Regions from separate parts of the Homo sapiens genome. Here all the other regions are reported to be linked to region 2. The links are microRNA targets in miRTarBase. Many come from high-throughput screens and were not tested one by one. Region 2 holds a microRNA gene; each other region holds the end of a gene's coding sequence.
What was found. The annotated mature microRNA hsa-miR-130a-3p reads CAGUGCAAUGUUAAAAGGGCAU and lies in region 2 at 4,372-4,393, shown strand. An mRNA with a match to its seed (bases 2 to 7 or 8) in the 3' UTR can be bound and repressed. Matches are read on the target gene's strand: a 7mer-m8 pairs with bases 2 to 8, a 7mer-A1 pairs with bases 2 to 7 and ends in A, and an 8mer does both.

Region 1 (8,059 bases), not on the chromosome of region 2:
CTGACAAAGACCTGAGTTTCCTACAATGAAAATAAACAGGTCAGCACTCCAGGTCCCGGTGCTTCGAGGACTAGGGGAGGGTGGGACGGGAACTCTCTCCTCCTCCCTCTTCAGTTGGGCCCTTCAGGGTTTCTGTCCCCTTGCTGCAGTTTTTAACGATCCACGTGGAACTAACTGTTACAGGGGAATAGGCACATGGCAGTGAAGGGTCTTGTCTAATGACAGTCCTTCATCCCAGGGCCTGCCAGAGCCAAGAGCTCTGTAAGATAAGCCACGAGGCCCTCGGGAAGAGCTATCAGGGGAGCCGCAGATGAAGTCGGCCTTCCCTGGCAAGCCTGGCTCTCCTCCGTCCTGGGAAGCCTTTCACTTTGCCATACACGGGTGAGAGCCTCCTGTGGGAATTCTTTAAACCTCAACAGCACTCTGAGGCCCCTTAGAGAAAGGAGTCAAGGCAGGGACAGGTTAGGAATTTATGAAGAGCTTTTCACACCCTATTTTCCATCCTCAGGACAAATCATCAGGTAGATAAACATTAACTTCCCCGCTTTATAGTTGGGAAAATGGAAGCTCAGAGAAATTAAGTGACATGCCCACAGTCACACAACTGGTGAGTGAGGGAGCCAGGGTTCTGTACAAATCTCCTGCACACACAGGCACAGTGCCCCGGGAAGGGCAGGCGGAGGCGGGGCGCTGCCTGCAGAGGAGCATCCCCAAAGGCTCCCTTGGCTTGCGAAACCTACCACAGTTAAGAATCTCGTGGGAAGTGAGATGAAAGAGAAAAGGGAAAATAAGAATACTTGAAGGCACTTATACGTTTCCTTAATTGATTCTCACAACAACCCTAATTAGTACGTATCATTATGCCCATTTTTACATGAGAGGAAAAACAGGCTCAGAAACACCCGTCCAAGCGTTGCAAGGAAATAAATACGCTGTCAGAATTTGAACCCAGCGAAAGCCTTGGTGTTTTCCTTTACTCCATGCTTCCCCCTGGTGGTGAGTGGAAGGAGAGTGCATAGAAGCCACCTGGGTGCCAACAGAAGAGTTAAGTCAGCGTTCTGAACTCATTTATTCATTCGGTAAATCTTTGCTGAGGTCCACTTTGTACAGTCTCTGCACTTGGTTCTAGAAATACAATAAAAGACAAGACAAACAACCTTCTATTGAAGGACAAACAGAAACACGGGAGGCCTAGAGATAATTGGATTACACAGGAAAAGGGAGTGTGGGTCAGGGGTCAGGTGATGGAAAAATGTGTGCCAAGGTAAAGAGGCCAGAGGAGTGCGATTTCCTTTTTTTTTAAACATACTATAGGTCTGGCTAGGGAGATATGTGAGGGGTGAAGCTGGAGAGGTATGCAGGGGCCAGGTCTCAGGGGGTGATGGAAAGCAAGTGAGGGTATGGCCCATTAGGAAGCCACTGTGGTAACCTAGGAGGGTGGCCTTGGGCCCCGGAGAGAAGTGACAGAGGGGATATGTCATTCAAATGTCCAAGTGTCTGAGCACTGGCATGCACTAGGCACTATTCCAGGTGCTGGGGACACATCAGTGAACAAGAGGAAATCTGCCTTCATGGAGCTTCCATTTTAGTCAGGGAAATAAGCATATAGATACACAAATATGTAATATCCGGCACTGATAAATATCACAGGGCGGGGGAAAGACAAGACAAGTGTATTCATTTGCTAGGGCCTGCCGTAGCAAAGTATCACAGACTAGGTGGCTTAAACAACAGAAATTTATTTCCTCACAGTGCTAGAGGCTAGAAGTCCAAGATCGTGGTGTCAGCAGCATTGGTTTCTTCTGAGGCCTCTCTCCTTGACTTGCAGATAGTCATCTTCCCTCTGTGTCTGTGTCCTCATTTCCTCTTCTTATAAGGATTCCAGTCATATTGGATTACAGCCTACCCATATGACCTCATTTACTTTACCTCTTAAAAGGCCCTATCTCCAAATACATTACACCTGAGGTACATTCAGTCCTCAACATCATTGATAGGTTCTTGGAAACTGTAGCTTTAAGTAAAACAACATATTAGAGAACCAACTGTTTTGCTCATCAGTGTTACAAGGCAACGATGTTGAACAAAACACAATGTTATTCAAGGACCTGCTATATGTCCTTTCACTGAAAGCCGACATTTCCAAGAGCCTATTGATAGCATCAAGTGAGGACTTACTGTACTAGGGGTTAAGATGTCAACATATGGATTTAGGGGGGACACAATTCAGCCCATGACAGAAGGTGGCAGAGTATACCTAAGGCAGGAGGTAGAAGGAGGGCAAGGAGGGCCTCTCTGAGATGACAATGAGCTGAGATCTGAATGAAAAGAGGGAGCTAGCCACGCAAATGTCTAGGAGAGCATTCCAGGCACAGGAACAACAGGTGCTCACCCCGAGGTGAGGACATGGCTCAGGACTACTTGGCATACTCCATCTTCAACGATAGTAAGAATGGGATGGGATGATGGGAAAAAGGGAGATGTTAGTCAAAATGTACAAAGTTTCAGTTAAACAGTAGAAATAAGTTTTTGTGATCTAGTGCACAGCATGGTGACCATAGTTCATAACAGTATACTGTTGTCTTAGTCCATTTTGTGTTGCTATAACAGAATACCACAGATGGGGTAATTTGTAATGAACAGAAATTTATTATCTCACAGTTCTGGAAGCTGAGAAGTCCAAGATCAAGGCACCAGAAGGTTAGGGCCTGGTCTCTCTGCTTCAAAGATGGTGCCTGTTGCTGCATCCTCCAGAGAGGAGGAACACTTTGTCATCATATGGCAGAAAAGCAAAAGAGAAGGAACCCATTCCTGCAAGCCCTTTTTATAATGGCATTAATCCATTAAACATCCCCATTAGGCTCCACCTCCCAGTAACATTGTACTGGGCACTAAGTGTCAACATCAAATTTAGAGAAGACAAAAGCACTCAAACCACAGCGACTGTACACCTGAAAACTACTAAAGAGTATATCTGAAACATTTTCACCACAAGAAAGTGATGAGTAGATGAAGTGATGAATATGTTAATTAGCTTGATTTAATCATTCCCTCATGCATACATATATCAAAACATCACATTGTACTCCATAAATATACGCAATTATTATCTGTCAACTAAAAAGAAAGTAAAAAGTTTTTATTACAAAAAAGAAGAAGAATGGTAAGATGGCGAGTATGGCTGGGGTGCAGTGAGATGTCATAGGACCGTGAGGGCATTATGACTGGCCCTTAGTTTGAGATGAGAAACCAATGGGGAATTTAGAGCAGAAGAGTGGCACGATCTTACTTTGTTTTAAAAGCAACACTGTGTTGAGAATAGATGGGCAGAGAAGGGAAGGGCAGAAACAGGAAGACTAGTTACGAGGCCTTTACAATAATCCAGGTAAAAGATGACACTGGGACTAAGACAGTAGCAATGGAAGTATTGGGACATGGTCAATTCTGGATATAGTTTGAAGAGAGATACAACAGGAGTTACTGATGTAGTAGAGGTAGGATATGAGAAAAAGAGGGGAGTCAAGGGCAGTTCTAAAGTTCTTGGCCAAAGCAACAGGGTGAATGGTGGTGTCATTTACCTAGATGGGAAAGCCTGTGGAAGGAGTAAGTTTGAAAAGGCACGGAAATTGAGAGTTTATTGTGGACAATGGGAAGTTTGATACCTATTGTATATCTTAAACATCCAAATAGAGACATTGATTAGACTGTTGGAAATGAGACTGGGATTCACAGGGAAAGGTCTAGGTTGAAGGTATAAATTTAGGAGACATTGTGTAAATATTTAAAACTGGAAATTCTTTTTTTTTTTTTGAGATGTTATTTCTCTCTTGTTGCCCAGGCTGGAGTGCAATGGCACGATCTTGGCTCAGCACAACCTCTGCCTCCTAGGTTGAAGTGATTCTCCTGCCTCAGCCTCCCAAGTAGCTGGGATTACAGGCACATTGTACTCCATAAATAGACACATACAGCCTTCCGAGTAGCTGGGATTACATCACATTGTACTCCATAAATATAATAATTTTATAAAATTATAATAATTTTATAAAAATATAATAATTTTTGTATTTTTAGTAGAGGCAGGTTTAGTGGAGACAGGGTTTTGCCATGTTGGCCAGGCTGGTCTCGAACTCCTGGCCTCAGGTGATCTGCCTGCCTTGGCCTCCCAAAGTGCTGGGATTACAGGCGTGAGCCACCGCGCCCGGCCTCAAACTGGAAATTCTTGAGATCACCTAGTGGGTGAGTGTAGGGGAAAAGGTGGAAAAAAGGTCCAAGGAGTAAGCCCTGGGACACCCCAACACTTACGGATTAGAAAAAGGTAGATTCAGCAGGAACAAAGTCGAGAAATTGGAGGAAAACCAAGAAAGCATTTGTCGAAGCCAGTGAAGGAAATAGTCTAGGAATACTGATGAGAAGCTTAGTAAGAAGAATGAAAACTGGCTATTGGATTCACCACACAAAGGCTATTGATGATTTTGACAAGAGCAGTTTCCATGGAGTGGTGGGGGTGAATACTTAATTGTAGCTGGTTCATGAGAGAACTGGAAGGGAAGAATTAGAGGTAGCAACTCTTTTGAGGAGTTCTGCTATGAAGGGGAGAAGGAAAAGAGAACAGCAGTTCAAAGATGCAGAGAAAAAAGTTTAAGAGATTTTACAGCATATTTGTATTGCTAATAGAATAATTGGTCAGGAAAAAAATTGACAATCCAGAAAAAAGACACTAGGAGTCAATGTAAAGCTAGAGGGTTGGGCTTTGATAGGAATAGTGTTGGTTCATTCTTAGTAAGAGGGAGGAAGGAAGGCTATAAAAGCACCAATGCAACTGGGTTAGCAGATTTGGTGGTTGGGTGTTGGGGGATGTGGAAGTTTTCTTCTGATCTCTTTTAGATTCTTAGTAAAATAGGAAATACAGTAACCAGCAGACTGAGGATGGGAAGGGGATGCTGAAGATTGAGGATAAAGATATGTGAATAGATTAAAGAAATAAACAGGTAGTATTGATAAAACTTAACTGATTAGACATAGGAAAATGTGAGACAAAGAAAACAAAGACAGATTTCTGATTTGGCAACTGGGTGGAGAGTGGAGGTGTCTTTCATTCAGATAGGGAAGTGTGTGGGAGAAGCAGGTCTGGGAGGAGGGGGGTTTGATTCTAACATGGAAAGTTTTGTGCCAGTGAAATCCAAGTGGATAAAAGTGTCTGAAGCTCAGAAGAGAAACCTGAGCTTGAGATATCTCAGCTCCCTGATCTGGAAGTTGTCAATATTAAGATAGTAGGAAGTGGAGAGGCTTTTGTGGTTGCTGTTTTCTCTGAGAGGTAAAGGGACTGGTGGTTTGAAATCAGAGAAGGGTTGAAATAGATTCTGGAGAAGAACAGCAACATTGACAAGGAGATAGGGGGATCATCAGGTACTCTTAGGGGGCACAGTTAAAGGTGGAGCTCTTATGTTGAGTAGTTCCAGCCTTACCATTGCAGAGCCCTGGGGCCCACATTTGTTTCTGGAACTAAAACCACCAGGGGCCCAGTGTCCTTCCTGCTTCTTCCTGCTGAGCCTCCACATCAGGGTTCCATCTCACCACCCAGCAACGTTCCCTGACCTTGAAGCCTATCCTTTATCTAAACGCAACACGCTTTCATCCTTGCTTTCCTGGTTAACTCCTACCCACCTTTCTCTACTCAGATCAGGCCAGGACTTTTTCAGAAGCCTTCCTTGACTGTTCCCCACATCCCCTGCCATGTGAGCAGGAAGTTTCTTCTCTATACCCAAATAGCCCCTCAAATACCTATTACAGCATAAAACATACAGCACTGTATCACTGATTTACTCGGCTGCCTCTCCCACTGGACTGCAACAACTTGAGGGCAGAGTGTTTTCACCTTTATAATGATCACTACTTAGTAGGTAGCTCAATACATGTGAAATTAATATAGGAGAAAAGAACTAAAGTCCAAAACCGACACAATTCTACAGGGTCATGATGTCCCCAGCCCGTGTCACACAAAGATGCTTCTAACCTTAGAAACCAACTCACAAAATAGAGAAATATCCTTTTGGTCTCAATATTATACCCCTTTTCCGTTCAGGAAGAAATCTTAGTAAACCCACAGAAAGGAAATATCCTTACATTATATTAAAGTACATTACCCCTTGCTCTCTCCTCTTCCCAAACACACAAAGCAGGAGGCATTGTATAAAGGCACTTTATTTTAAAATCAACACATCCTGCTTTTATAAATCAGTTACTCTTCATTTCCAACTTCCATCACCTGAGTTTGAGAGCAGAGTGCGTGGTATTTTTCTGGGCTTAAGGTATAAACTGACATGGCATTCAAGAACATGTCCAGCGGGCAGAGCCCATCAGGGCAACCTCTCGGCACCTGCTCCTGCAGAAGAAACATAACTCAGCAGGTCCGCCGAGGAACCTGTCCTTCTGCTATTTCCAGCTAAGCCCAGAGATCTGAGAGGCTCTGATCCATGTGGTATACATGTGCATACATATTACAGACAGGAAGGCCCCACTACCCGGTGAGCTTCCAGAATAAAAGCACTATGCTCTGCTTGTAAAAGTCACTCAAAAAGTGTTGAATTGACTGGGAAGAAAGAGTCGAGTTACATCCCCGAGCTGGGAGAACCAACAGGCTCATCCCTGGGGCGTGCTCTGGCCTCTGCCCTGGACCCCAGCCCTGATGAAGCAGCCAACACCACGGGTGCTAACAGCAGCACACATCACCTCCCAAAGATACCACCAACAATCTCCAAAACAGGTCTCACAGCCAGGAGGCGACATCCTGACAGGGACGCTCAGGAGAAGAGGAGGGGGACCCTGTTCCTAGGAGTCTGTAACAGAACTGGGATAAGGCTCAAGCCCCATCCTGCCACCATCTGTCAAGTTCTGCCTGACCCCTGGGCCATAGCCAGGAGTTGCCCTATAGGATTCAGAGAGCTGACTGTGCCAAGAGAGACTCCACTGGGCCTGAGGAGGGAGACTTGGTGCTAACTCAGGTAGGTGGGTTTTGCAGGAGGGTGCCTCACCACCACCCAACCCCACCTCAGGGGTATTACCTTCCCGTGGTAATAGAGCTGCACAAACCACTCCTTAGATTCCAGGTGCTGGTAAAGTTCCATGGTCAGGTCAACAGCAAACGGTGGCCATTTGTGGTCAAAAATCCCCAGGGTCATTAAGAGCGGTATGAAGGTCACATCATGAGCCGCATAGAGATACAGCTTTCTGCAAGAGGAAACAGCTCTCCACAATTCTCTGCCTCAGGACTCTGAAGGTCAGGATGTGGCCTGCCTCCTTTACGTAAGACACACTTGCCTCAGAAACTAGGTGACATCTAGAAATCAGCTGAGCCTGGTATAAAAGTCCTTTGCAGTAGATCGTGGGAAGAACCCTTGTTCCCACTCCCCGTGTCTTCATGAGGAGGGTCCCCGCCAGAGAAATTCTCCTGGCCTCCTCCTTGCCACCTACTCACTCCTCCCTGGTGAGTTTCAAAGAAGAAACTGAGCGTGTGTGGCTTAGACCCTACCTCTCTTCTCTCTTTGGGTCCTGCCAGCCTACATGAATGCCCTTCCTACTCTCAGCCATGGGATGAGTTTAGTAGGGCTCCTTGTTGGGGAAGCTTGAAGTTTTGGGGTATTAAGTTTATTTCAAAATAATATTCACAAGCCCATTTGGCCCTCAGCACATTCTCCAAATGGCTTTAATCTGTAATAAGAATGCCATTTTAATCTACATCTGCCTGACACCAGTATCCATCTCTTAGGAAAGACCAAGGATTTTATTTATGGACCCCCATCCTAGAAGACTAGCATTGGATCCTGTGGTGTTCTAAAGATCCAAGGCAGAAGGTGGCAAGGTGGCAAAAGCCAGAAAAAATGTACTGTCATTGCAGGTACTGTGAAGGACAGGAAATGGTATTCACAAGATTTGCTATTACAAATCTTGGCCCAAAGTTCCTGTTTCAACTCACTGTCTCCTATTCCTCTTACGCCATCATGAGTTTCTAGCTGTGATACCACAACAGTGCTTCTCCAAAATTCAGGTGACTATCAATCAC
Region 2 (8,059 bases):
TTTTATTTTGAAAAGGGACCACGATATATGTAATTTTCTACAATGATGCAGATATAGAACATTTCCATCTTCTCACAGAAACTTCTATCAGGACTGCGCTGTCCTAGACCAACGTTTTGCAAACGAGGAAACTGAAGCTAAAAAGGAAACATGACCTCGCCAAGCTTTTTTTTTGAGATAGAGTTTCGCTCTTTTCACCCAGACTGGAGTACAATGATTTGATCTCGGTTCACTGTAACTTCTGCCTCCTGGGTTCAAGCGATTCTCCTGCCTCAGTCTCCCAAGTAACTGGGATTACAGGCAAGCACCACCACGCCCAGATAATTTTGGTATTTTTAGTAGAGACGGGTTTTCACCATGTTGGCCAGGCTGGTCTTTAACTCCTGAACTCAGGTGATCCACCCGCCTCGGCCTCCCAGAATGCTAGGATTACAGGCATGAGCCACCGAGCCCGATCATAGCTCACTGCAACCTGGAACTCCTAGGCTTAAGCGATCCTCCCATCTCAGCCTCCCTAGTAGCTGGGACCATAGGCCACACCACGACGCCCAGCTAATTTTTTTATTTTTCGTAGAGATAGAGTCTCAGTGTGTTGCCCAGGGTGGTCTGGAACTCCTGGGCTCAAGCAATCCTCCCACCTCAGCCTCTCAAAGTGCTTGGATTATAGGCGTTAGCCACCGCGCCCAGCCTCGCCCTGCATCTTAATGGCAGATCTAGGCCTAAAACCCCGGACCTTACTCCAAGGCCTGACATATCGCCCTCGTCCTTGCTGCCGCCTTCCTCTCTGGGCTCCCCCACCTCAGAGCCCCTTGTGGGCGCACAGCACGTTGGCCCAGGCGGGGCAGGGCTGGTCTGAGGGGATGTTTTTGACGGAGCGGAGCTCCAGATGCTGCACATTCCTGATCGGGTCAGGCCTGCCCTGCGGCACTCGGGGAATTAGCTTCGGTGAAGAGCCCCAGATCTTCTTTCTAGAGCTGCCCTCTTCCTGGCCAGCCCAAGAAGCGCGGGCGTTCAGGAACGCTCTCCCACCGCCTTGGGTGAGGCTGAAAGGCTGAGTGGATCCCCTGTTGCAGAAGTACTTCTGGTCAAGGAGGGGTTGGAGACGGGCAGGAAATTGCACCCCTTGTATCTTCCAAGGTCTCCAAATCCAGCACGAGGGGCATCTGGGAACAGGGTTTCTGCCAGCCCCACCTTGGGGCCGCATTTGGCGGGAACTGGATCTGCCTTCACCTGCAGCCCTGTGCGGGGCGTGACGGAAAGAGCGGGGAGAGGGGCGTCCTGGTGCGGGGGTTGTTGAGGTGAGAAGCCAGGGGAGGGGGCTCCGGGAGCGCCCTGACCTCGCGGACTGTTGGGAGGCGGAGGGGATGGGGGTTGGGGGAGAAGAGGGGAGCCTGGCAGCCAATGGGAGGGAGGATCTCGTTTCAAAAGGGTTAACCCACAGCCAATGGGAGCCTGGGGGAGCGGATCCTGCTCACTCCATTCAAGAATCCCAAGTATTCAAGATGGACGGCAGGGAGTGTGGAAGGAGAAAGGGGGCGAGGGGGGAAGAGCGAGATCGGCAGAGGAGAGGGTCTCCGCGGCCCACCGGCCTCGCAACCTCGGTCCCGGCCGGCGGGTGGCGGGGCGGCCGCTGGGGATCCAAGCCCGGCCCGGGAGAGGGGCTGGCGGGGTGCGAGAGGGCGTGAGCGAGGGGGAGCGAGGCCAGGGAGGGGAGCCAAGAGGGAGGGAAGGGCAGAGAAAGAGCCCGGGAAGAAGGAGGTGGCAGGCAGAGGATCCTAACGAAGAGCAATGTGTAGGTATCGAGAGCTTCCCGAAGGGTAACGACACCGATTTTCGGTTTTATTCTCTCTTGGGGAAGGGAGGGGGACGGTCTGGGCTCTTTCTCTCGTCTTCCTTTTTCCCTCCTCATTCTCCACTCGTGGGCATCTTTTCTATTTTTTCCTTTGGAAACACTGTAACTGGGAAGCACCAGGCGTGTCTTTCTGAGGTGGCCTCACTGTCATTTTCCAGTGGGGGGCGTGGTGGGGTAGGGATGGGGGGCTCCGCTGGGCACGGCCGAGCTGGGCCATCTGTCTCCACCTGGGTTGTGTGCGAGGGCGTGGAGTGTTCCGAGGGGGACCGGGGGCCGAAGGGCTGGAGCAGGGCAGGGAGTTCTGCACCTCCAGAAGTTGTAGGGTGAGCCAGGGGCGGTGTGGGGGTGTGAGGCTGGTTTTCGAGCTGATAGTTGTGGGGTGTTGAGGGGTGCGGGGATGTGTGTGTGTGGGGGGCGTGCGCTCACACTCCAGTTCTTGTTGTTTGGGTGTGTAATGAGGGCTGAGTTGTGCAGCAAGTATGGCTGAGAGTTTGTGTGTGTGTGTGTGTGTGTGTGTGGTGTGTACGTGCGCCTGTGTGGTCCAGCCTCGAGGTGTGTGTGTTCGGGGGGAGCACAGTTGGGTGTTGAAGGAGAGCGCCCCTCACCCCCCACTTCCCAGCTGCCTCTCTCATCCCATTCACAGAACATGGCTTTCAGGACCCTCCTGGTCTCCTCCTCCCGTCGCCATGGCTGCGAGGAGGGGGTGGGAGGAGACAGTTGGGGCCAGCCCCCTGCCCCTGCTGCTCCAGCTAACCCCCCACCTGCCCTTTCTCTCCCTTTCACAGGCTGGGCCCCATCCCCTGCTGCTCTGGGGGCAGGGGCCGGAAGATGGTGGCCAATGAGGAGGGGGAGAGGAGAGAACTTGAGCCGGGGCCTCCCCTCCCCCATTTCCTCCTCGGTCTCTACACTCGCTTCTGGAAGGAGCTGGGGGCTGGCTCCTGGGCCCAAGGTGGGGGAGGGGTCCTGCTGGCTGGTGAGTCGCTGGGCCTGCTCCTCAGGAATGAGTTGGGTGTGTGAGAGCTGAGGGGCTCTTGGCCCTTTCTCCCTGCACTCCCTAAGGAGAGACCTGGAAACTTCTTGGGGAAGAATCTTCCCCTGGCCTCCCTGAAGCTTGCTGTGCAGCCTTATCTTTGCCCCTCTGCCCCCTGTTGGTGTGATCCAGTTCCCAGCTGGGCCTGGTTTGCCCAACCCCAGAGCAGAGAGGTCACTGACCCTCGAGGGGTCTTGGTTTCCGCCCATTAAAACTGTAGGGCAGGGCCCCATGTTTGCAGATTACGGGAACAAACTCTGCCGGGGAGAGCGGGAGGGAACGTCTCCTGCTTCCTGAGGGGGTGGGACGAGGCTAGAGGGAAGCCCAGAGGAAGAGCTCCCAACTGGAATTCTGTCCTCTATTCCTTACGGTGGCTGTGGATTAGGGAAGAAGGCATCTCCCCTTCGTTGATCGGGGCACTGGAGGAATCACCCTCCAGCCTCTGTTTCTCTGGGCTGCCCAAAGTTCACTGGGTCAGAACTGGAGCTGGGCTCCGGGGCTGTGGCCCTAGCTGGAATGTGCCACAATAGAGCCTGCCTGGGTCTGAGCCTCCAGATATCCAGGTGTCCTTCCAGGGCAGCTTTCTGGCTTTGGGTGTTAATCTTCCGGGGACTGTTTGTCCTGTATTTAAGCCCCCTTAGGGTTGGATAGGATGGGGAAGTGCTAGGATGAGCTTGAAGACTCCCCAACCAAGGGTCCCTGGATAAGACAGGAAATAACTCAGATGTGAATCCCACTGCCAGTGAAAGCCTATCCCTAACTCTCAGTAACTGTGAGCGAATCACCCTCACCATTTTAATGCTGAATCTGCAAAGTGCTTTCAGGACCTCCAAAAGGAGATGCAGGGGTGGGGCTTCACCAGCAGCTTTCACCTCCCCGCCTGGAAGCTTCTCTCTACTGCGTGGGGAGCTGTGACTACAGGCTCCCACCTCTCTGGTCCTGGAAGGTCATCTGAGAGTGTTGCCTTGAGGCCTAGAGCTCTGCTTTATCTAAATTTAAAAGGAGATGGAAACTTAGAGAAGAGTAGAGGGTTCTGTAGTCTTGGGCAGCAAGCTCCTCTCTAGAAGGTAAGCTAGCGGAAATGCAAATCCAGATGAACACAGCCTCATACGAGTGACCTCCAGACTTTGGGGATTGCTAATAGCCGTTTTCTTTGAGGACTGAGCATCAAGCCCGAAGTATCCCTGCAGCTGCTTTAGTGGGTCCTGTCCTCCCATGCCAAAACCTCCAAGAAAAAGGTGGTCTCTGTGCTGGGGGTCAGGGGGTTGGTGAAGAAGGCGGCAAAAGGAAGAGTGGTGAAAAAATAGAATGAACACTAAGAATGGAATAAAAGGGAAAAAAGCTGTATTGAAGCAAAGAAGGGGCAGAGGGAGCCCGTGAGCTGAGTGGGCCAGGGACTGGGAGAAGGAGTGAGGAGGCAGGGCCGGCATGCCTCTGCTGCTGGCCAGAGCTCTTTTCACATTGTGCTACTGTCTGCACCTGTCACTAGCAGTGCAATGTTAAAAGGGCATTGGCCGTGTAGTGCTACCCAGCGCTGGCTGCCTCCTCAGCATTGCAATTCCTCTCCCATCTGGGCACCAGTCAGCTACCCTGGTGGGAATCTGGGTAGCCTCACTTGTTAGTTATACTAATAGCTCTCATTTATGGAACTACTTCTGTATGCAGTGCTTGTGATAGACACTGCCTCCGTTACTGTGAAACCTAATAACTTCTGGGAGGTAACAGCCCCATTTTATGGATGAAAAACTGAGGGTCAGAAAGGTTTAAACAGTTTGGCTAAGATTGTGTAGCTCTTAGGTTGCAAAGCCTAGATACAACCCTGTGTTAAGTCTTGACAGCTCACTCATCTTTTTGTAGACCCATCTGGAGAGATCTGAATAGGTTCTTCAAACTGGGAGATTTCCTGAGCTGAGGGGTGGAAGGTTTTGATGCCATCTGCTGGTTGTATGAGGATATCTTCCAAAGCCTCAAACCTTTAAGGACCAGAAGTGGTGGCAACTCCTTAGGCTAAGAAGGATAAGCATTCCCAGACTCAGCCCGGAATGGAGAGTGAGTGGAAAAAGATTAGGAGAATCACTATTAGGTACAGAGTAGGCCTCCTTGAGAAAAAAAGGAATGCACCAGAAAGGAAAGGGGGTTAACTCGAGAGGATTGCTCCCCAAAGAAAAGGACCTGTGTGCTGCTGGCATCCCATACCTACAGCTCCTTCCCTGGCTCATGAGGCATGGAAAGACCTCACTCCTTCCCTGAATCCACTTACCTTTCTCAGCACCACTCCCTCTTGGTCACGGGGTGTTTGATGGTAATGCTGCTTGAGGGCACACCTGTCTGGGCATCCAAGATTTGGACAGCGTTGCCCATGACTTAATCTTAAAGATTAATAGGATCCCTTGAATCAACCCACAGAATGATTCTCCCAGGACCAATTACAAGGAAATTGAGGCCGGGTGCGGTGGCTCACGCCTGTAATCCCAACACTTTGGGAGGCCGAGGCGGGCGGATCACCTGAGGTCAGGGGTTCAAGACCAGCCTGGCCAACATGGTGAAACCTCGTCTCTACTAAAAATACAAAAATTAGCCAGGCGTGGTAATGCACGCCTGTAGTCTCAGCTACTTGGGTGGCTGAGGCAGGAGACTCTTGAATGAATCTTGGAGGCAGAAGTTGAAGTGAGCCGAGATTGCGCCACTGCACTCCAGCCTGGGCAACAGAGCGAGACTCCATCTCAAAAAAAAAAAAAAAGAAAGAAAAATTTGAGAGCAATGACTCAGCCATTTACTTCTCTGTCTCCCACAGTGCCTAGTAGGCTTAATTAAAACTTGTTAAAATAAATTGAATGAGAGGAATATTTGGGGAGCTTCTTTAAGAAGGCAGCTAGTATTCCTGGTCTTTTGGCTAAGATCAAGTGAAGAAGGCAGCTAGTTTGTGCCTGGTTTTCAACAGCAGAGTTTGGGACTTGAGAAATCTTCCCTAAACTTTGGTGCAAGAAATGGGTCCAAGAGGAATAGGGTTTTGAGGTCCTCTGCTGGACCCTGAGAGGGATCTTGGCATCATGAGGCATGTAGAAACTGAAAGATGGGTCAGACTCCCCTGAGGCCTTAGTTGAGGGATGTTGGACATCTCTCCATGGCTTGCCTTTTTCCCTTGCCCTTTTACTTCTGTGCCTTCCAGTTCTAGTCCTCCTTTCTCCTGCCCAGACAGCCTCTCCATTCTGATCACAACAACAGTATTTGAGATAGTACAGTTAGCTTTATTTCCCTTTTTTTTTTTTTTTTAAGACAGAATCTCACTGTCGCCCAGGCTGGAGTGCAGTGGCGCGATCTCGGCCCACTGCAACCTCTGCCTACCAGGTTCAAGTGATTCTCCTGCCTCAACCTCCTGAGTAGCTGGGATTACAGGCGTGCACCACCATGCCTGGCTAATTTTTGTTGTCCAAGCTGGTCTGAAACTCTTGGCCTCAAGTGATCGCCCACCTCAGCCTCCCAAAGTGCTGGGATTACGGGTGTGAGCCACCGCACCCTACCATATGTTCCTTACTTTCTCCAGTCTATTAAAACTTCTATTTGAGCCTCTTGTCTGGGCACAAATAGCCATTTGATACTGCCACTCCACTCTAAAAAACAATAATTTTCCCATATTTCCCTAATACCATTGGGATTAAATCTAGATTCCCTAAATAGTTTATGGCTCCTGCTTCTCTTTCCTTTCATGTCCTCTCACCCACTTTTTAAGGAGACAAAGTTTTGCTCCAGCCCAGGCTGGAGTGCAGTGGCGTGATCATGGCTCACTGCAACCTCAGCCTCCTGGGCTCAAGTGATCCTCCTGCTCAGCCTCCTGAGTAGTCGAGACTACAGGTGCAGGTATGGCTTTTTTTTTTTTGAGACAAGATCTTGCTATATTGCCCAGGCTAACCTCAAAGTTTGGCCTCAAGCAAGCCTCCAGCCTTGGCTTCCTAAAGTGCTGGAATTAAGGCGTGAGCCACTGCTTTCAGCCCACAAGCAACTTTTATTTCCTTCAATTAACTAAACTTAAGTTACTTGACACATACTCTGTCTGAAATACTTCCATCACTTTTGCCTTTGCCTACCTAACTTCTTATCTTTCAAATGCCATCGTAGTCATCGCTTTTGTGAAGCCTTCCTTGACTCCTTACATCTAAGCTGAGTTCCTTTCCTATGAGCTCCCAAGCTTCCTCCACGTCCCTGCTTAGATCCCTTATTATCATCTTCTACTGGGATTTCCTGGTTATTGCATCTCCTACTGGACAGAAAGCTCCAGGAAGTCAGGTCACAGCTGCCTTATCTTCACCATGTGCTTAACATCTAGTGCTTAACACAATGCCTGGCAAGTAATAGATGCTTTATAAATATTTGGAATATTAATGAATGAATCTGGAAAGAATATTATAGCTTACCAAAAAATGATCTTTATGATGTATATGGTCTCCCCTGTAACTGTTGGGCACCCAACAACAGTAGGGATTTCATACCACTGCCAATAAAATGTCCCTTGGGTCATATGGTGGCATTGATGTTGCGATTTTGAGCTTTTTTTTTTTTTTTTTTTTTTTTTTTTTGAGACGGAGTCTTGCCCTGTCGCCAGGCTGGAGTGCAGCAGCACGATCTTGGCTCACTGCAACCTCTGCCTCCTGGGTTCAAGTGATTCTCCTGCCTCAGCCTCCCAAGTAGCTGGGATTACAGGCACGTGCCATCATGCCTGGCTAATTTTTGAATTTTTAGTAGAGACGGGGTTTTGCCATGTTGGTCAGGCTGGTCTCAAACTCCTGACATCAGGTGATCCACCAGCCTCGGCCTCTCAAAGTGCTGGAACTGCAGGCGTGAGCCATCGCGCCCGGCCTAATTTTTGAGCTATTTTGTTTCACTTCCCATCAACTGCCAGAGCAGCACTTTGGCTGACTGATTTTCCTTTTAGCCTTAAGTGTGCCCATGAACTGACCAGAGCATTACAGAACCAGGCTGAAAAGCCACGGGACTCAAGAAAATCCTTATTCTGAGATGAGCCTCTTTCAGAGCCCGATCCTGGATCTAGGCAAAATGGACTTACTGTCAGGGGTGCCAGCAGACACAAGCGGTTTTGGATGCTCTCGCCGAGTAGCTAACAAAACCCACCCCTCTTACTAAGGCAAAACTTCACCTGAACGCTTATTCCCCGGTAAAAG
Region 3 (8,059 bases), not on the chromosome of region 2:
TACGATTATTAATGTATTTATATAAAATTGTATGTGTATGCATACAGAAAGTTTCATTTAAAAAAATTTAATTACTTAGCATTTATTGAAGGGCCTACTGTGTTAGAATAGGCACTTGCAGTCGGGCGCAGTGGCTCACACCTGTAATCCCAGCACCTTAGGAGGCCAAAGTAGTCAGATCATTTGAGGTCAGGAGTTCAAGACCAGCCTGGCCAACATGGTGAAACTCTGTCTTGGCTAAAAATACAAAATTAGCCAGGCGTGGTGGTGCATGCCTGTAATTCCAGCTACGCGGGAGGTGGAGGCAGGAGAATCGCTTGAACCCGGGAGGCAGAGGTTGCAGTGAGCTGAGATCGTGCCACTGCACTCCAGCCTGGGCGACAGTGAAACTCCATCTCAAGAAAAAATAAACTAAGCACTTGAAAGTGTTAGTTTTTACTTTAGCGACAACATACTAATCTGGAAAAAGCATCATTTCTGGAGACAATTTTAGGTTCAAATCTTGGCTCTGGCTCTAACAATATGACCTGTTTATACGTCACTTTAACTTCTCTGAGTTGCTTTCCTCATGTCAAAACAAGGACAATACTACTTGCCCTGCAATGTTTTGAGGTTCAAATAAATTAGCACAAATGAAAATACTTCCTAAAATAATATAATTAAGGTTAACATAAAATCTGTCTTTTAACACATTCCAAAAATCAAGGCTTAATTTGTGCAAAGGCTTTATTCTTATGGCCCCATGATGGTGCATCCACTGCCGAAATGCAAGGGGCGTGTCCAGATTGCACTGGCCCGTGACGAAAGCTTCCAACATTGTGCAGTAAGTCATTTGGAATCAGAGGGCCTGGATTTAAGTCCAATAGCTGTGCAGTCTTGAGCAAGTAATTTAACCTTGAAAAGTCTGCTTCTGTGTTTATAAACTAATAATTGTGCATGCATTACGGGATTGTTGTGGAGAGCAAGCAAATATGCATAATTGTTTTGAAAACTATAAAGTGCTAGAAAATTGGCAGATTTTGTCATATTGTTTTTAGATTATACTTTCTTGGTGTATCTCCAGCAGGGAAGTATATATTTTGGACCCCAGGATGGCCTGTAAACTCCAAGGCCTGTAAATCTCACTACACATAAGTGTTACATATATGTAAATAAAGATTCACAAGTAAAACACTTTTTGAAATTTTTTAGAAAAATAGAAAGCAAAGGAGCAATTACTGTAAGCACAAGTTGTCTATACATCTCAATTTCTTTCCTTTTTTTTTTTTGAGACACAGTTTCACTTTGTTGCCCAGGCTGAAGTGCAGTGGTGCAATCTCAGCTCACTGCAACCTCCGCCTCCTGGGTTCAAGTGATTCTTGTGCCTCAGCCTCCTGAGTAGCTGGGATTACAGGCACGTGCCACCATGCTCGGCTACTTTTTTTTTTTTTTTTTTGTATTATTAGTAGAGAAGGGGTTTCACCATGTTGGCCAGGCTGGTCTCAAATTCCTGACCTCAGGTGATCCACCTCCTCAGCTTCCCAAAATGCTGGGATTACAGGCATGAGCCACCATGCCTAGACATCAATTTCTAACAAGATTTTGTTTTAGTTTGTAGTAAGAACAACATTTCTGAAAAGGTCATATATGCATGGTAAGAATTCAAGCAATATAAAAGATCATTTCAACAAAAGATTGTCTCCTGACTACTGAACCCTCTCATCCCACACCACCAGTGCCCCAATTTTCCTTTGTGGCAGTTTGGATTAGCTACACCTGAAGCAAAACATTATTCCATAGTTTTCTACTTTTTTTGTCTTGCCATTTTTAAAATCGTTTTCGCAATGCTCCAGAGCTCTGTTTGATGAGCTGAAGCAAAATGCTTTGAGCTTCTCCTTGAGGTAGGTCCTCCCTGAGTGACTTTCCTGCCATTAAATCCTAAAGGCTTATTTAATTGCTCCAAATCAACTCTTCAAGCAGAAGCCTAATGGTCTAGCTGCTGAGCATTTCTAAGGGCCAAGTGTATTGATAAATATTATAGAATAAAAATTGGGGCTGTCACTAATTGAGTGTAATGAGTACTGCTCACTTCCTGAGTCCATAGATTCCTAGCTGAAATACCTTGTGCTCTCATTCTTCCGACACTTACACTGCAATGTCATAGGAACCTCCAGTCTCCATTAGCCTCATTTCTTCTCTGCTCAGCTCAAACCTATTCCTAAAAGTCCTTTCAGAAGCATCCTAACGTCCTCATCCCTTACTTATTGCACCAAATGAACCCTACATCAAGCCTATCATCTATGTTTCCTACTAATACAGATGGCTGAGCCCAGTGAAACAGCATCACATAACTGCAGATTGCCATTACAAATTCCTGGTTTCCAGTAGGCCAAGTCCTTAATGCCACTTGTCAATCCTTTTCCCTATAGTATTATTTAGAAAACAGATTTGGCTGGCTGTCACAATAACAACAACCGTGGTTATACCATCATCATAACTGGTAGAAACAATACACTCCATTTCTTTTTCCCATAGTAGTTGAAAGGGCATCCCATGCTAGTGTGGTGGCTCAGTTCCTTGAGGACATCCAGGGACACAGATTCCTTCTATTTTGTTACTCCGCCTTCCCCAGTGAATGACCCTCATTTGGCCCATAGATGCTCCATTGCTTTGTCCACATTCCAGGCAGCAGGATGGAGGAAGAGAGGAAATGGGCTGCTTGCCCCGGGCTGCCATCTGGAAGTTGCACTTATCACCTGTGCTTACATCCCACTGGCCAGAATTTACTCATATGGCCACACTCAACTGCAGGGGTAGGTGAGAAAGTCTTAAAAAAATAAAATCAACTATTAAAAAAATTGAAGTGTAAAATATATACTGAAAAGTACAAAAATCATAAATGCATAGCGTGTTGAACTTTCACTAATAGAACACACATGCCTAACCAGCAACTGGAAAAGCAAGCATCTCTGGAACACCAGAAACCTCCTCAAGCCTCTAGACTGTATCCTGCTCCCACGGGTGTTTTATCCTGCTTCTCTGTTCTGACAGCATAGTTTCACCTGCTTTTCTACTTTATGTAAATAGAATCGTACACACGTCATTTGTATCTGGATTCCTTGGCATGGTATGTGAGAATCAGCTATATGGTTATATATGGCTATGTTCCCAACCCAAAATTCTACTATGAAAGAAGGGGAAAAATGCTCTCAGAGGACTACTAGTAGGCTACTAGCTACTAGGCATCTCTCTTTTTTATTTTTTTGAGGCAGTGTCTCACTCTGTTGTCCAGACTGGAGTACAGTAGTGCAATCGCAGCTCACTGCAGCCTCTGCCTCCTGGGTTCAAGCAATTCTCCTGCCTCAGCCACCCAAGTAGCTGAGATTACAGGCATGCGCCACCATGCCTGGCTAATTTTTGTATTTTCAGTAGAGACAGGGTTTCACCACGTTAACCAGGCTGGTCTCAAACTCCTGACCTCAAGCGATCTGCCTGTCTAGGCCTCTCAAAGTGCTGGGACAACTTTGGTGAGCAATCGTCCCAGCCGCTACCAGCCGTCTCTTTCACTGACTTTAATGTATCTTCCTAATATTTTCTTTCTAAAGCCCCTTACTACTTCCTGCACCCCACATTATCATATGACTGATTTTCCAGCTTTGCTGGAAAATGGAAGCTGTGAATTCCTTTATGTTCTTATTACTACAAATAGACATGTATATTTATCATATCTCCTCAAATGAACTGGCACAGAATCACTTGTGCCATATTTTGTTAGAGCAGTCATAAGCCTGCCCAGATTCAAAAGGATAGAAAAGAAAATTTATATCTTAATGGACAACAATGCATAAGAGCATGTGGGGTGAGAGATACTGTGCAGACATCTTTGAAAAATATGGTCTGCCACACCTAGCTTGAAAGCATTTGCACAGCTATTTTAAATCACAGTAATCATATACAGAACTGTGAGAAATAATAATGGCTTCAAGCCATCAAATTTTCAGGTGATTTGTTTTGCAACAATAAATAGCAGCTAGGTGTATCAGCTACCTACTGTCACAAAAATGCTGCATCTAACACACTACCCCAAAACTCTGTGGCTTACAATCATAATTTATAATTGCTCACAAATCTACAGGTCAATTTGGTGGCTCTGCAAATTTGGGCCAGGCTTGGCTGATCTCAGTTGGTTATCAAGTGTATCTGCGGTCAGCTGGCAGGCTGGCTGGACAGCTTATCTAGCATAGCCTCATTCACATGTGTGGCTGGTTGAGAGCTATTAGCTGGTACAATACAGGTGACTGGACTATGTGTCTCATTATCCAGGAAGCTAGGCTGGGCTTCTTACCATGGCAGCAGGGTAGGACTCTAAAAAAACAAGTGGAAATGTTCAAAACTCTCAGAAGTCTATTCAGAGATGGCATCTTGTTATGTCCTCTGCATTTTACTGGCAAAAACAAGTCACAAGGCCAGTCCTCTAGATTTAAGGGGTAGGTAAATAAACTCAAGCTCAATGGGTAGGATGAGCAGCAAAGTCACACGGCAAATGGCATGAGTAAACACAAGGATAAAAAACTGGAGACACACTGCAATACATCTACCCAAAATAAACCTTATTGCTTTATTGATCATTTTATAAGGTAAAAAAATGTCTAATGTGGCAGACAAAAATTAAATTGTGTTGAATATTGTCCTACTATTCTTATCCAAATTCATGAACAGGCAGCTACCTTATCCTAAAAAATATCCTTGGTAAAGATTCTGAGCCTCTCAGTTATCTATCCCACGTCTGACAATTACTCATCATCACAAAGTTCTTACAAATATTTAAATTCAGTCCCTTTTCATTCAGCTCTCACTGGGCTATTATTTTCCCTCCTTTCCCATTTCCATCCATTTCCCATTTCCCTCCTTTCCCATTATTCCATCTAAAGAAGCATAAGCTAATGTTTTCCACCATAAAGGGTAACTTAAGCTTCAAAAAAACTCTCAACATCGTAAGTATGAGAATAAACTAACAGTTAATAACAGACAGTAGATGAATTCCTCTGCATCTAGTAAGAATAAACTAAAGAACAGAATAAAGAAATCAGCTAACTCAAAGGTCAACAACTGGACTTTAATGAATTAATTTTGTTAAAAGTGTTTTGAACAGATATGCAAGTAAAAACACACACATTAAGAAATGAACAAAAACGTTCTTGCTCTCCATAAGTACTTCTTAGAACAGCCATGATTAAGTCGAACTTTATATATAGAGTTTAAAAAACAAGTAACAAATTTTTGTAGAGTTAAACTTGAGACACATACATTTATATCCTAATATTGGATATACTCTCTTGACATTTAATTTGTTATTCCTATTGGTAGGTTTGCCTTTTTAAAGTTTTAAAGTTTTCCTAGGAGAAAGTATAAGAAAAAGGTATCCAGATTACTTATCATTTTTGAACATTACTTAGGAATAACAGTTTTCAGATAGCTCAATTGCGAAAAACAATGACAAAATACTGGAGTGTTAGTTTTATTTTCAGGATCACCTTTTTGAAAAGGATCTTTTTCATTTTGTTTAATAAAAAATAAGTATAAGAAAAATAATTTTGTCTTGGCATTGGTGGGCTGAGATCTATACTGTTCACAAATTCAACAAACAAGAAATGTCTGCTTTAAGAGATCAGCACTAACAGGTAACATCAAAGAGAGAAGCCAACTGTAGGAGACACATCCCAGTGTGCTTAGTTAATCCGTCAGGTTTTACTAACACACCTCTGAAAAGAGATGCACATCCTAAATTCACAGATATTAAACAATAATCACTTTCCTTACGTCTATATAAAATGTGCTTACCTCTTTGACAGCTTCAGTCTTAACTGCAAAGAAAGGTTATTAAGAGAACCCAATTATAGGTGCCCCAACTACATGTTAGCACCACAAAATAGCCATCAACATTTCTTAGGAGTGTTATTGGCACTGCGGGTGAGACAATCTTTAGTATGTGGGACTACCCCTGACACTGCAGAACATTTAGCATTCCTGGCCACTCACTAAAAGCCAGTGGTTTTCAAGGTCACTATGACAATCAAATTGACCCTTGATGAGAACCACTGAGCTAGATGAGTCAAGATTAATATCTATTAACTTTATGACTTCCACAGAAAGTAACTGCTTCATTACCTTCAGTAACAATGACTGAAGAGGAATATATTTTTTAAAAAACATTATAATTAAATGTTATTTGGAAAGATAAGCTGACTTCTTCAAACTCACAGTAATCTGAAAGATTAGATGCACAAAGTGCAATACTTACTTATCCCCAAATGCACACATACATTTACAGGAAAATGTTTATGTTCTACAGGCATAGATTATTACCCCATTTATGTCTGGTAAAAAAATATGCTCATCTATTACAATAAGATAAAAAACCATGTAGATGTTCTTGGTAAGTTCCCTCACATTGATGTTCCTGGAAACTGCTGTTGTCTTTGCTCCAAAACTTGCTGATTTAATAGCTGTTGCTGTTTCTGTAAAAATTGCACTACTTCTGGACTTCTTAGTAACGACTTAGAAAGAAAAGAAAAAAATTATTAATAGCATTAATCTATGTCATTAGACTGTTTTCATGCTAATTACTCTGATGTGTCCCTACATATGATACAATATGTTCACAAGAATATGCCTGAATCAAAAGCACTTTTACATCGGATGCACTGCAACTAAGCTGCAAACTAAAAATAATGTGATGTCACACATCAAAATACTAAAACCTAAAAATAACGGGTGAAGTCTGTTATTGGTGACTTTGTGTAAAAAGGAAACACCTTCTCTAATATGCCAGCAAATATACTCTCTTGAAATATGTAAGAACAAAGAGCTAAAAGTAGCACTGACCCAGGATTATAGCAAGAAAAAAAATGGAGATGAAAGGGGGCCACATGTGAAAATAGCAGCTAAATGCCAGTTTGTACATACATACAAACTAGTGCTAGAAGTCAAGTTTCTCATTAGGCAACTAAGTCTTCATAAAGAAATTAAAAATTGTGTGTATAGGTGTGTATATATATATATGTACATATATATCGGTATATACCAAAATTTCAGGAAAAAATATAACTGCTCTAAAACATCCAATACCTTTTTGTACACTCATCACTTTAAAATATAGTTGTAATAATATAACAAATATAACAGACTATGATTAACATATTATTATTAGAGACAGGGTCTCACTCTGTTCCCCACGCTGGAGTGCAGTGGCGTGAGCATAGCTCACTGCAGTCTTGAACTCCTCGGCTCAAGCAATCATCCTGCCACAGTCTCCTGTAATAGGTTTTTATAATAAAATACTTACATAAATTTATAGAGAAAAAAATCTTTGGCCCCAATAAGCTGCAAAAAGATAAACTGAATAAAGTGAACATACTATCATTAAATACTGACTTTCAGATTATATGTATTATATCTTAGTACATTTTCTATTTATTAAACAGTTTTATTTAAAAATCATCTTAGCTGTTATGACACTGTTGGACATTTAGGCTGTTTCAACTACCTTTTTTACTATTTATGAGAAATATATTCCTGGCAATACCTTTATGTTTAACTCTATCCATATTTAGGATTTACATTCTGTAAATGTCTTCATATTAAATGTGATGTCTGAGTTGAAAGGGATGACTCCTGGTACATATTGCCCAACTGCTTTCTGAAAGTGCCATACCAATATATAATGCCATTAACTACTTGAGAATGTCCATTTCATGAAAGTCTCCACATCACTGCATCATTGTGCGTAATCGTTTAAATAATTTTCACTTTTTGTTTATTTTTACTGATATTGAATACCTTTCCATATCATTTAATGGTATTCTGCCTTTTTTTTCTGTTTCTATCTTTTGCAATGTATTGAAGCCAAAGGTTTTCCTCATCAAATTACAGGAATTTTTGTAATAAACTTTCTTTGCAGTTAAGACTGAAGCTGTCAAAGAGGCAAACATATTTTATATATATGTAAGGAAACTGATCATGTTTAATGATTTATAGGGTGCTCTGTTGCCTAGGCTGGAGTACAGTGGTATGATCATAG
Region 4 (8,059 bases), not on the chromosome of region 2:
ACCACCAGCTTAATTTCTGTGAATACTGTATATTTAACTTATGAAAACCAAGAAATGTAAAGATAACAGGAAAATAAGTTTTGATTGCATTGTTTTTAAAATAAGCTAGTTTTCTGAGGTGTTTTCACACGTCTTTTTATAGTTACTTCATCTTAGATTTTTGAAGGGATATGACTTCCTACTAAGGATTTAGTTTACCACAACAATTCTGACTACAATAAGACATTTTGAGGAGGATATTTGGCTACTGTAAACATGGCTGGTGGAAAATCACGATTGTGGCTTGATGTGGCAAGCCGAAACCACTTGGCTCTGGAAATCTAAGTTCATACTGGTTTAATTAAGCTCTCTCCTGACAACCCCCAGAATTAAATGAACCATGATTGTGAAGAGTAATTTGGTACAATGAAGGCAGTGTTTGTTTTTAAGTTAAAGGAAATGGGCTAAACATAAAGTTCTTATTAGATAAGTAAATAACTAAAGAAAGAATACAATTACTAAACTCTGATGGCTTTGTATTATTTTAAAGAAATGAAGTTTAACTTTATACAGTGAAGCTAAGCTAGGCAAGCTCAAGAAGGAAAAAAAAATCTTGAACATTATTTTTTTTTGCCTGACTTACTTATTCATTAAATTTTGAAGGTTTTCCACTTGAAGTAAATTAGGAAAGGTAAAGAAGATAACAGAACAAGTAAACACTTAAGAAAAGTCAAGCTGAGGCCGGGCAGGGTGGCTCACACCTGTAATCCTAACAAACACTTTGGGAGGCCGAGGGAGGCAGCTGGATTGCCTGAACTCAGGAGTTCAAGACCAGCCTGGCCAACATGGTGAAACCTCATCTCTACTAAAATACAAAATAATTAGCTGGGCGTGGTGGTATGCGCTGTAGTCCCAGGTACTCGGGAGGCTGAGGCACGAGAATTGCTTGAGCCCGGGAGGCAGAGGTTGCAGTGAGCCAAGATCGCGCCACTGCACTTCAGCCTGGGTGACAGAGTGAGGCTGTCTTCTAAAAAATATAAAAAGTGAAGTTGGGATTTTTGGATTTAAATGGTACAAAAAGAATATCTCATTTTCCCATGATTAAAGCTAATCTTCAGATGGAAAGCTTGCCTGGCTACCTAGGGTGCACCAGAGAATCTGATCCAATGCAAGCCAGTCAATCCTACAAATGTGGTGAGCTAGTCTTCCTTCCTATATTTTAATAAATGTAACCAAAGGCCATCTGGAGGTAGGGGAATGAGAGGTGAAGAAACAGAAAAATAGAGGTTATAAGGATGGAACTAAAAGTTGTCAGAAGAGGTATGAGCTGAAGAAAGAATTACTCTCTTTTGACCAATAAATACAATTGGGAAACACTGGAAAACCATGGCTTGATTACTGACAACCAACCTGCCTCTCTAAAGAGGGTGTATAAAGGGTGAAATACATTAGATTTGGCTCAGAAACAGAATGCGGTACTTATAAAGCAGAATAAAGGGGAGAACAGTAGTAGTTGATCTAACCCAGATTAGACATGAATACCAGCATATGTTTGCAGAGTCCCACAGTTTTGATTCCTCTTATAACTTTTTGAGGTGCAAAAGGAAGGTACCAGAACTGGAATCACATGTAATCAATCAGTGTGATTTTCCCCTCATACCACACAGCCATAGGCTGCAGTGTGGCTGCTGAAGTTCAATTGATATAAAGTAAATCAGGCTTCAAAAAGAATGGTGCTGTGGGTACACAAGGACATAAAGATGGGAACGATAGACACTGAGGACTGCGGCGGGGGGAGCGAGGGGAGCGGGGAGGGCAAGGGCTGAAAGACTATGTATTGGGTACTATGCTCACAACCTGGATGATGGGATCATTCATACCACAAACCTCAGTATCACACAATATACCCATGTAACAACCTGCACTCTGCACATGTACCCTTAGAATCTAAAATAAAAGTTGAAATTATTTTTTTAAAAAAAGGATGGCGCTGGTCATAGAAAAAGTCAAAGTAAACTAACAGTGTCATTTTCAAATGTTGCTGGAAGCACAATATTGGCCATAAATTAGTGAGGTTAAAATAGAAGAATCTGGCATTTTATAGTATAAGGAAAAGCTACAAACCTCAAGGTTGTTTTATTTAAACCAAATAATCTGAGCAAGACATATATACATTAAAAACAAATGAACACATTAAAATTTCACTATTTTACAATCTAAATTCTAGCAACATATACAAATACTGAGTGACTACAGTACATGCCGAGGTAAGATAAGTACATTCTGGGAGAATATCACTGACGCTCAAACCATTTTTATTTCCAATATGTATTTCAATACATGTTTGTTTCCACTTTTCCCAGTGCCACACACACACACACAAAAACAAAACAAAACAAAAAAAAACAGTCACAAGTTGGATTACATTAGAATTGGTGCCACAGTTGACTTTAAAAGCATTTTAATAACCACCCAACTCTTAGATTTTGCAGTTTAGGGACTTCAAGTTCAGAACCAAAAAGCAGAGAATCGTTTCATGTGACATGATGTTTCTATAGACCTCTTGCTCTCTAGGTGACAATGCAGAGCCAGGGCAAAGGTGTTTAAGCTTTGTCACCTTCCACAGCTTTGTGGCCACATTCATATTTAGATAAGCTCGGACTCTGCTCCCCTCTTCTGGAGATGGGGAGAGGCAAGTGTGTATGTGTTGTCATACTTACTGCATTAATTCTTCACTCGAACCGTTTACATCAGCGAATAAACCCATTGTTCAATGCAAAGTGCAAACAGTGAAACATGAACTTAAATAAACTGGACTAGACCCATCACATCCAACAGGATCTATTTAGATTTACAGCATTTAATAAAGTATAAGTCAGAATTCACAATATCTTAAACTGTGCTGTTTCCTAAGATCAAGTAACAGCCAAGTCAGTGTAATTTTATGAAACCTGTAATGGCCACATTTGTTGTGTCTCCGATGTATTTCTATAATTGCATTAACAGGAAAAAACTTAATCCAATATACCAGTGACTTTGAGTCTTAAATGTTGCAAGCAAAGGATAAAAATTCAAGGGAATTTTGTCAGATATGGTTACTTTCACATTTTCAGTTGTTACTTGATTGTCTCCAAAGCCGTATATGTATCAGACATATAAATGTAGTAAAAAAAAAAAAAAAAAAAATAGAAAACCTCTACTATAAAAACCAATGAACTAAAAAGAAGTATAAAGCAGAAAAACCATTTGAATCAGGCTCAGCTCTTCATCTGGAAAGTAAAGTTTATATAAAAGTAGTAAAAACTAGATATTTTATAAAAATTATTGGTAGTTCAAGGATAGCACAGTGGCAATATGAATCGAGTCTTAAAATATGCATCATTTCAGAAAACACTTGCCCCTCTTAAAAAAAAAAAAACCCAAAACTAAACAACAACAACAAAAACCTCCAGGAAAAAACAATCAGGTATACACAATTAACACAAGAATAGCAAACTTCTTTGGGAAAATGAAATAGTTACCAAAAACATCTCTCTTAAAGCTTCAAACAGGTATATTACTTGAGGAAAAGTATATTCTCTGTGTACTAAGGATGAATTAAAAAATCAACTGGTTTGCTCTCTTCCCACCTGAAAAGGGATGACTGCATTAATATATGTGCTTTCCACATCCATATATGTTTTAATAAAAGTCTACCATCTATGTCTTTTGTTTCAAACATTTTGAAACAAAATATGTATTGATTCTTCAATGAATGAAATCACGCCTCAAAGTTTGGAGAAGGAAAAGCCAGTGAAAATAAGGCCAAAAAACCATACCACAAAAGGACAGGAAGCCTGCAGAAATAAACAGTTCTCTTTCTGAAGCGATGTTTTAGAATACTGATATAATTCATGGAAACAAGAAAACAAATACTGTTCATCTTTATTCAAATTGAGTGAATTCTGGCAACATCATAATCTGGTGGCTCAGGCCAACAGAAGTGACTAGAACTTTATGGAAAAGTACTGTTCAACATTAAATCTACAAACAAAGGTTTATGGAAGAGGGAATGTCAAATTTATGTATTTTTATCATATGGTGAGCTGCTCATGTCGTCTTGACAGTCTGAAGGCTTTAAAAGATGGTTTTACATTGTTAGCTAATAAATTACAGATGATTTCTATTTTGCCATGTCTAAAACTAGCTCTGGGCAGGTATGAACAAGTGGTGACATGGAAGCTGCCAGGAGGTATCAAAAACAAGGCATGAATATTCATTTGCTAGTAAGCTATAATGTCTGTTCCCTAGGTGACATATAGGACTACTCAAACCTCTTACCACACAAAGTGCACGATCACGCAGTCCTGAAAAATACACGTTAGGTTTATATTTTGTGTAACAGTTTATGGAAAACTGAAATGAAAAATTATTTTTTCTGACTAAAAATATAAAATACCTTGAGACTCAAGAAAAATGTATATGTTTGTGAATGTATAAAACCAAAAAGGACAAATTCTGGTTACTTTTTAAAGAGGTAATTTATATTACTTCTGAGTGAATAATTTTGCCTTTCACTGTGATAAATATAAGTGGGTCATGTTTACAGTATTCCCTTAGAAGCCTTCAACTTTTCATAACTCTCCTAGGAAAAATCCCATTGCAAATAAAGTTGGGGGTGGGAGAAGAATCTCCTTTAAAGCTTTCAAATCATAAAGTTGTTCCTGTTTACACATTGAGGAGCATACTTAAAGGACATGAAGGGATCTGAATTCATGAGACTAAGGCAAGCATCACTCATCAGAAATACTCAAACATTTTATAAACACAAGAATGGGGCAAGACACCAAAGGGCCTCAAGTGGAACACGCAAGGATGAGACCAGGCCATATACTGTGAAGCATTAAAGCTCTAAAGAGTGTCACAAAGTGAAAAAGCAATCCCCCTGCTCATTACAAGTCAGAAAATCCCAGCTACAGATCTTAAGATGGATAAGTGGATATGGCTGCAATAAAAACAATGCTTATATCACTAATTATTAAAAAAAATCCAGAAAAGAATATAGGAATAGAAGAGGAAATCATGATAGTACCCATCTTTCACAAACAGACTAGAATTTCAAGCCATTAGGTATTTCAAGAACAGTACCGTGCGTTATTGCCAGTCAGGCTTACAGAGCCATCTCGAGTTCATTAATGTACCTGCAGCATTGGTAATAAATACTCTGTGATTTTTAATTTCTCTGAAGTGCATTATAGGGAGCTTTTTCTGTATTAAAAATAGTGTTCTACAGTAGTATCAAACAGGACATTTGAAATTTAACAGGCGAGCAGTAACTGTGCCACCATAACACCTTAAAGCAAGATGGCAAGATTAGTAGTTTCCTGTACCTCAGTCACCACATTTTCCCCAACCACTTCAGTGACAGTTATGTAATACATTCTATATATTACTACCACTAATAATTAAAAAAAAAAGGCCATGTGCTTTAAAACGATGCTTTGTAAAAAGCAGCATCATCTTCAAAGGATTTCTTTAAAAACATCACATTCCCCATCCCTTCCTGCTCCTGATACTTCTTGTGTGCTCTGTGGCACCTGGTACACCAATTCGTCTGGGGCAGGTAGACCTGGCTTCCCAGCTTTCGGGGTATCATACTGGGCCTGGGCTGAGGAGCAGCTGTCAGTCCTGGAGAGAAGTGTATTGTAAGTTCCCACTAGTGGGGGAGGTTGGTTCCCCGTAGCCTTGAAAGTGGATGTGGAGGGCTGACCAACTGAAGTTGTGGGGTGCCCTGACATGTCCATGATGATTGGGGTTGCATACTCAGGCCCCGTAATTGGGAGTGGTTCAGCATAGGCATGATAAACTTCCTGCCCTGGTGAGTTGTAAGGATCTAGGTCTGCATAGCCTGCTTCTTTTCCTTCTTCTGGTTTAAAGGTAGATCTTTGATGAAGTGTACCAACAATTCCTCCTACCAGTGGCTGAGCATACTCTGTGGATATCACAAAACAACAGAAAAGTCATTTTACTAGTAAAGAGATTGCATAATTTAGGGTGGCAGCTGCAGATTATACTAAAAGCAAACATTCTTTAGGATACTTTTGTTGCCATCAATACTTAATCTGTAAGAACTTTGAAAATTAAAATTAAACATACTGTCTAGTACTTCTCATAGTAATAATATACCAGAAAGTCTCATTCATGTAATTTTGCATATAGAATTTTCACATATGTTCTTTAGATTTACAGACAACATATTTCTTTACTGAATATTTCCTTTCTGAATTATTTTCAGAATATTTCATTGGAAAAGAAACATTCAGTTACTGGAATAAATATTAATCTTGAAAAATAATTTCAGAGATTTTTTTCAAATATTAGGAAATGTTTAAAATAAGTATGTACTAGGCTAAGAGGATAAACACTGTAAGGCTTCTTCTGTCTTTCCCGCTCTCCTCTCAACATCTCGGGTCTCCCCACAAGCCTCAGTTAACATACATAATGCCCAGAGTCTTTAGAAATCAATGTCCCAACTTTACAGACAGAATATCCAAGATACAGAAATGACTCTCTGAAGAGTCACCTTTTAAAAAAGTGGTTCTACCTTTAGGAAACAATTCATTTCTTAAACATGAAAGGGATCAAAGAACTGTAAATCCCAAAGCACTTTATAGCAAGCCTAAGCAGTTTCTCCCTCTGCCTGGTACCAGAAGGCTGCAACATAGTTACCTGCAGAGTCAGCCTGCAGCACTGTGGTGACTTCTCTTGGACTCAGGTGATTAACTTCGCTGCTGCTATAGCGAACTGGGGTTTCCTCATGGTCCACTGCTTTTGCAGGAAGAAACTGCTTCATTCCTTTCCACCAACCTTCATTGTGACGGCAAGCCAAAGAGACCATTAAATAAAAACCTGTATCTCAAACAGTAGTATCAAGAGAAAAATCCTGTTGCATTTAAGCCATTTCTATAACAAATATCTCTACAAACTTGCCTTTATAATCCAACTTTTTTTTTTTTTTTTGCTGTGATAGACTATCCAGCACCAAGCAGTACATGGTAGAAATCTCTATCAAACACATGCAGGCAAATCACTGTTAGTATAGTACAGCCAGATACAGTATCTATTTTAGGGGTGGCCTTAATTACATTTTTCCCAAAAAATATTTTCCAAGATCTACCCTGGGGCACTAGCTGCCCTTTTCTATCCTAGCCACAGCAGTGAACTCTCCTGGCTCCTAAGAGCTGATCCAGTAGTGAGACTGGGAAGTGAGAAACTGGTAGGGGGGCCCCTTTGGTGTCACTTGCAGCAATTCAGAAGATGACAACTCATCATGGGAGACCTCCCGATTCCTAAACTGCTGGACTCCACTTGGTGAATAACCATGGCAGAGGACAAACACACACTGTGTCCTGGAGACCACAGTCTTTTGTTTCTTACTCAGTGTTCACGTGGGCCACAGAAAGCCGGTCTCCTCATGAGAAACAGATACACAGGACAAACTACACAAGTTTTCCAGAAGAAAAAGAACAGAGCTTGTTTTAAGAAATTTGTACTTTTCATTTCATTACTTAGGAATTACAAGAGACTTTGCAGAAGGGTAAAAATGGTGAGAACTGAAGAGTAATGCCATTGTTCTAACAGTGTCGGGGAGTTCACCTGGGCCAGAGAATGACTCTTTTTTCACTACTGCCCCCTGTAGGGGAGCGACATCCCTCTGATAGAAATGAGATGCAAAGACCACGTGAGTTACCTGCCCGGTCCCAGTAAGGTAAGTCATAGGTGCCTTCAGTTTTTTTCTTTCTGGAAAAATACAGAAGAGAAGTTAGCAAACAGAGTAAATTCACTGGTAAGCCTGCTCCCCCTACCCCATGACAGGCCTTGGTATGTGATATTCCCCTTCCTGTGTCCAAGTGTTCTCATTGTTCAATTCCCACCTATGAGTGAGAACATGCGGTGTTTGGTTTTTTGTCCTTGGGACAGTTTGCTGAGAATGATGGTTTCCAGCTTCATCCATGTCACTACAAAGGACAGGAACTCATCATTTTTTATGGCTGCATAGTATTCCATGGTGTATATGTGCCACATTTTCTTAATTCAATCT

Region 1: miRTarBase lists ACP6 as a target of hsa-miR-130a-3p. Seed matches in the 3' UTR shown: 7mer-m8 at 3,844-3,850 and 7mer-A1 at 2,538-2,544.
Region 3: the mRNA of RFXAP is a reported target of hsa-miR-130a-3p. Seed matches in the 3' UTR shown: 7mer-m8 at 6,267-6,273.
Region 4: miRTarBase lists DCBLD2 as a target of hsa-miR-130a-3p. Seed matches in the 3' UTR shown: 7mer-m8 at 2,759-2,765.

Annotation. Positions count from the first base shown.
Region 1 is chr1:147,641,185-147,649,243 of GRCh38, forward strand. ACP6 (acid phosphatase 6, lysophosphatidic) reads right to left here. Exons shown (of 10, transcript NM_016361.5): 9 at 7,062-7,227; 10 at 1,046-6,382. The coding sequence ends at 6,239. Among named protein-coding and RNA genes, the nearest start is that of ACP6, 25 kb to the right of the region's middle. RefSeq lists an enhancer at 170-671.
Region 2 is chr11:57,636,881-57,644,939 of GRCh38, forward strand. It overlaps MIR130A (microRNA 130a), which reads left to right and starts at 4,318; the gene lies at 4,318-4,406. MIR130AHG (MIR130A host gene) reads left to right here and starts at 1,496. Exons shown (of 2, transcript NR_186232.1): 1 at 1,496-1,792. RefSeq lists silencers at 1,420-1,609, 1,630-1,689 and enhancers at 2,536-3,115, 6,390-6,889.
Region 3 is chr13:36,826,120-36,834,178 of GRCh38, reverse strand. It overlaps RFXAP (regulatory factor X associated protein), which reads right to left. Exons shown (of 3, transcript NM_000538.4): 3 at 5,075-6,536. The coding sequence ends at 6,426. Among named protein-coding and RNA genes, the nearest start is that of RFXAP, 11 kb to the right of the region's middle.
Region 4 is chr3:98,793,892-98,801,950 of GRCh38, forward strand. DCBLD2 (discoidin, CUB and LCCL domain containing 2) reads right to left here. Exons shown (of 16, transcript NM_080927.4): 14 at 7,709-7,758; 15 at 6,688-6,825; 16 at 2,050-5,950. The coding sequence ends at 5,481. It overlaps ST3GAL6 (ST3 beta-galactoside alpha-2,3-sialyltransferase 6), which reads left to right. Exons shown (of 10, transcript NM_001323368.2): 10 at 1-1,961. Among named protein-coding and RNA genes, the nearest start is that of ST3GAL6, 35 kb to the left of the region's middle.